Regions from separate parts of the Homo sapiens genome. Here region 1 is linked to region 2. The links come from fine-mapping of genetic effects on gene expression. Tissue or cell type: whole blood. Region 2 holds a variant in brackets; the other region holds the start of a gene. All regions are shown on one strand. Distances are between the middles of the regions.

Region 1 (2,806 bases), 210 kb after region 2:
TAGAGTACAGAGGCTGTAGTCCTCAGGCCTCCCCCTCACTGCAAGGGTAACACAGGAAAGATAACCTCCCATCTTTGACACGCCAGCGGGGAGGAGGGGAAAGAACCTACACAAGTTGAGGAGCCCTTTTTCAGTTAAGCAAGTCAGTGGCCTTACGCACCATCCAAAACCACACACACACACAAACAAAACACCCTGCTGAAGGTATCACCACCTTAACCCAAACCTGGTACCTCTGCCACCAAGGCCAGCCTGGGCAAAGATTAACCTGTGGTCTTCGGCCTTGGGTTCACTGACAGGGCCACCTTGGAGAGACAGCAGGCCAACTTTCTGTTTGTTTTAAAGGAAATGCTTCCTGGCACATGTTTAGGACTCTGAACTCTGCACATGAAGCCACGTGGTTGGTGTTAATCTGGCTCCATCCACTCACGATCGGCCAAAGCAACCTATTTCCGAGGGCAGCCCCTGGCTGGGTAATCGACACCATCTCGTTCAAGTCACGCGGGCTCCCGCCGGATTCCCCGGAGCCTAGTGCCGCGTCCTCTCCACACAGCAATCCTCCCGCGCGAGGGGAGCGGGGGGGAAAGGGGTTGGGGGGTTTCAGAGGGGAGGGACTTACACCTGTGAGGCCAATGGCTCTAGCGGGTCAGGTGAAGTTCGAGGGCGCGGGACAGGAGGAGACTCCCGCCCTTCCAGTCAAGCCGGCTTTGCACTAGCAGAGTGCGCCGGCGCCCTACTTGCGGTGCCCACCTGTAGCCACAGCAAACAAACTTTCCTCCCCTTCTGGGTTGGAAGAATCCGGTGCCTTACGCCACCCCCTGGCCCAAGCCGGCGGCGACCCGGAGCTCCGCGGACTCCTCACCTGATACCCCTAAAATCCCAACCTGGTCTGTCCCAGAGCGCAATCCCCGCACTGCCCGCGCACCCCGTTTGGGTATGCGGAGTGGAGGGTCTGGGTTGCCAGCTGGATATTAGGAATTGGGGGGCGGGAGGAGCGGGGGGACGCGATTCACTGCCCTTTGCAACTCCAGCTCCCAACTTTGCCAGCCGCGCAGTTGCTGCCTTCCAATTTCCTCTGCGCCGCGCAACCGGCTCCCTCGGCTTCTCCAACGCCGTCCTCGGGGAGGGAGCTCCCCAAGGCCAGCAGGAACCCCGCGCGCCCGGCGCACTTACAGCCATAGCGGGGTCTCTGCAGCGACGGCAGCTCTTCGTGTGGCATCCTGCGCGTCTCCGGGGGCCCGCCCGGGGCGCGCCCCCCGCGGCTACCCTCGCTGGCCAGGCTCGCGGGCTCTGCGCCCCGCCGGCGCGCTCGGATCCCGCCTCTCGCCGATTTCCCCTAGCCGCCCGAAGATCTGCGACCCACTCCCTCGGTGCTCTCTCGCCAGAGCCAGCCACGGCCGCCGCGCGCTGACACTGAAGTAAAAGTGAACTCTCCTCCCTCGCTCCCTGGCCGGTCGCCGCCGCCTCCCGCAGCAGGTTTCCTTTCTCCTCCAGCCAGGCCCCGTTATTCACCGCGGTGGGAGCGCGCGCCGAGACGCAGCGACCCCTACCGCGTGTCGGGCGCAGCGCCCAGGCCGCGTGGACCCGCCCCTTCTCCCCCGGGGGAGAGGGAAGGGGCCGAGAGGGACGCTGGGCCGGGACCCCCTGCAGCTGGGGCCCCCGCACAGCTGGTGGCCTGGGGGTGGCGGCCACCCCGCCTTATTTCTCGCTTCTGGAGAGTTTCGAGGGTGGAAGTGAACCAACGCGGAGAAGTGCAAGAAAAACCGCAGAAGTCACAGGGAGCCCTTCGTGTCCGGGGTGTTGCTCAGTTACTGAGGGACAAACAGCGCGGTTCCTTTTCCTCTGGGGAGATTTCACGTTGACTTTTGTTCTTCTTCTTCGTCTTTTTGGTTTTGTTTTTTTTTGTTTTTTTTTTTTTTTTGCTTCGAAAGTTGCTTCTGTCACTTTTTGTCTACAAAATAACAGGGTTCCCCTTATGACAAGAAACTGAGTGTGTGTGTGCTGGAGGAACAAGATAACCCAAGGCAACCACTCAAAACACAACTGCGAGTCATCCCCCTCCCTCCGATCACCTTGTGCCCGCCCCCGCCCCAGTGTGCAGAGCCTTCTCTCAAGCCCAGCTGGGGTCGCAAGCCACAGAAACCTTTTCCGGCTAAGCTTTTAAGGAAATTAAACTGCATGTGGCTGTTTTGAAATCGGGGTTTTCATGCGGTCGCCAGGAGCTATTTTTCTCTTTGTGTCTCAGCGTGATAAAATCTGGAGGGAATGCGGGACGCTTCCGTACCTGTGCCCTCACCTATTTGACAATTGTGGAATGTGTGGGTGACCCGATAACAGGAAAAACAAACTGAGGGAGGGCGATAAGAAATTATTTAGAGCCGGGCGCGGCGGCTCACGCCTGTAATCCCAGCACTTTGTGAAGCCGAGGCACAAGGATCCCTTGAGCCCAAGAGTTCCAGACCAGCCTGGGCAACATAGCGAGACCCCGTCTCTCCAAAAAATGAAAAAATAATATTAGCCGTATTAGCCGGGCGTGGTGGTTGCGCCTGCAGTCCCAAGCTACTCAGGAAGCTGAGGTGGGAGGATTGCTTGAGCCCGAGAGGACAAGGCTGCTGTGGGTTGTGATTGCACCAGTGCACTCCAGCCTGGGTGAGAGTGCAAGACCCTCGGAGGCGGTGGGGGGATGGAAATTATTTCGCTGAGGAAATGGTGGCATAGTGACACTAATCATTTTTTATTATGCAAGGATACAGAGGATGAGCAGCTGTTTTCCATTTCATATAGGAGACGCAGTCCTTCTCAAACT
Region 2 (2,655 bases):
TTGTCCCTCAACCTCCCAAGTAGCTGGGATTATAGGTGTGAGCCACCACACCTGGCTAATTTTTTATTTTTTATTTTTATCTTTTAGCAGAGATGGGGTTTCACCATGTTTGCCAGGCTGGTCTCGAACTCCTGGCCTCAAGTGATCCACCTGCCTTGGCCTCCCGAAATGCTGGGATTACAGGTGTGAGCTACTGTGCCCGGTCACATTTTAGATAGCTTTCAACAAGTTACTTAATCTTGGTTTCATTATGTGTAAGATGGCAATAATGATGGCAAAATGGTTCAGAAGGCTGTTATGAATTGTTGTGATGATTAAATGAGATGATACACATGAGTATCTAATATCATGCCTGACAAATAGTAGGTTCTCAATAAATGTTTGCATTAACCAAGGATGTTTTTCCTGTTTCGAATGAGGCAGTTCCTAGGTTCTAAAGACCTAGACAGAGGAGATGACCGCCCTTTCAGTTGGGTTTGCACCTGAAGACATGGCAGCCATAAGTAGCTAGGTCCCAGGTGGCATCACTCCCACTCTTAGGTGACAGATCATATCAGCCTCACCACTCAGCCCATTGGCCTTATCACAGAGGCCAGTCTTTGTGGGGCTCCTTATAATAGCGGTACAAGCTCTGTACTCAGAAAAAGCCACTAGTCTTCGAGAGGACAGCTTCTGCTCTACCTCCACACCAACTTCTCTTAGGATTCTAGTCCCCGACAATCTCAAACATCCGTGAATCAATCTGTGTATCTCTCATTTTGACACTTTGCACACCCTTATCTTTACTATTACTTGACTGTTCCATGTGACAATGTCCACTGCCTCAATCAGTTTCTAAGCATTTTGAAGATAAGGTCAGAGAACATTCAAATGGTATTATGTGTCCCTCTGTATCCCCATCTTCTCTACCAGAAGCTATGGACTGAAGTGTGCACATAGTATCTACTAAGGAAATAGTCAATGAATTGAACTCTGAACAAGAACTCACCTACAACTGAGTTTTTAGTCAAAGAATTAAAGCAATAAATAGCTCTGGAGCTGGTTTCCCCCCAATGTTTGTTACCAGGAAAATAACAGCTCTATTATTTCCATTCTGATTCATGGGTAATTGTTGGGACAAGAAGCTCATGAGATTTAACGTAAATGGGTCAAATCCTCCTCCTTCTCTCCCTCTGCCACCCAGCCTGTAAAATTTAAAAGAAACAGATATACTAAAACTTACTCCGAGTTTCTGTGATTTAGCATGGTATAAAACATCCTGGTAGTGCTGGGCATGGGCTGGGTCCACATCACTAATATTCGCAGTAGGTAGGAGCAAAGTTTCTAAAGTCCTCAAAGGATTCCCTTCATCAATAGCTTCATTGATGTACCCTACAGCT[A/G]CAACTCCTAGAAAATGAAGAAGTAGTTTTCCTTTTAAGTCACAGTACATTATAACTTCTTTAGTATCACCGATTGCAAAAGGCTAATTAACTAGTACAGCAAGGCTATAGGATGCAAGATGCAAGCACAAAACCAATTATGTGTCTATACGCTCATAATAAGCAATCTGAAAATAAAATTAAGAACACATTCAATTCATAAGACTGCAACTACAAATACATTATAATTATAAATAAATATTTAGACATAATTTAATGAAAGAAACATAAGACATGTACACTGAAAACTATACAACACCATGGGAAAAAACTTAAAGACAAATAAATGAAAAGAGCCAATGTTCATGAATTGGAAGATTTAGTATTGTTAAGATGGAAATACTTCTTAAATTGACCTACAGATTCAATGCAACTTCTATCAAGGTCCCAGCTGCTGGTTTTTATTTTTATTTTTTTTTTTTGAGAGATTCTTGCTCTGTCCCCCAGGCTGGAGTGCTGTGGCATGATCTTGGCTCACTGCCACCTCCGCCTCCTGTGTTCAAGTGATTCTTGTGCCTCAGCCTCCTGAGTAGCTCTCTACATTCTGACCAACACTTGTTATTGTCTTTTTCATTACAGCCATCCTAGTGGGTGTGAAGTGGTATCATACTGTGGTTTGGATTTGTATTTTTCTAGTGACTAATGATTTTGAGCATCTTTTCATGTGTTTATTTTCCCTTTGTACATCATCTTTAAAGAAATGAAGTGTCTATTCAAGTCCCAGCTACTTGGGAGGCTGAGGTAGGAGAATCACTTGAATCCAGGAGGCAGAGGTTGCAGTGAGCCAAGATTGCACCACTGCACTCTAGCCTGGGTGACAGAGTAAGACTCTGTTCCCCCCACCAAAAAAAAAAAAAAAAAAAAAAAAAAAAATATATATATATATATATATATATATATATATATATATAGAGAGAGAGAGAGAGAGAGAGAGAGAAAGAGAGAACAAGACTGACTATAGGGTTCACAAATGAAAAGCACAGAAGTCAAACTATGAAACCTGCTTTTACAATTCTAATGAAACGGATCTATCTGGAGGTTACTTCTCAATACCTTATTATTAAAAAATAAACTATCATCCATTCATAAAAAAATGCATTTAGATAGACATGCACACACAGACACACACACACACACACACACACATATATATATAAAACACACATATACACACACTGCCAAGGAGCTTTTGCTTCCTAGGTTAGTACTGATGGATAAGAACTGTTAAAGAAACTAG

The links. PIP is the estimated chance that this variant, and not a neighbour inherited with it, causes the effect.
Region 1: it holds the start of IQGAP2, and the variant in region 2 is fine-mapped to the expression of IQGAP2 in whole blood (INTERVAL, PIP above 0.99).

The regions. Positions count from the first base shown.
Region 1 is chr5:76,401,959-76,404,764 of GRCh38, reverse strand. IQGAP2 (IQ motif containing GTPase activating protein 2) reads right to left here and starts at 1,480. Exons shown (of 36, transcript NM_006633.5): 1 at 1,174-1,480. The coding sequence starts at 1,219. RefSeq lists silencers at 1,169-1,278, 1,449-1,798 and an enhancer at 1,015-1,515.
Region 2 is chr5:76,609,751-76,612,405 of GRCh38, reverse strand. IQGAP2 (IQ motif containing GTPase activating protein 2) reads right to left here. Exons shown (of 36, transcript NM_006633.5): 13 at 1,223-1,386. Among named protein-coding and RNA genes, the nearest start is that of F2RL2, 12 kb to the left of the region's middle. The variant A/G (reference allele first, on the strand shown) is at 1,380.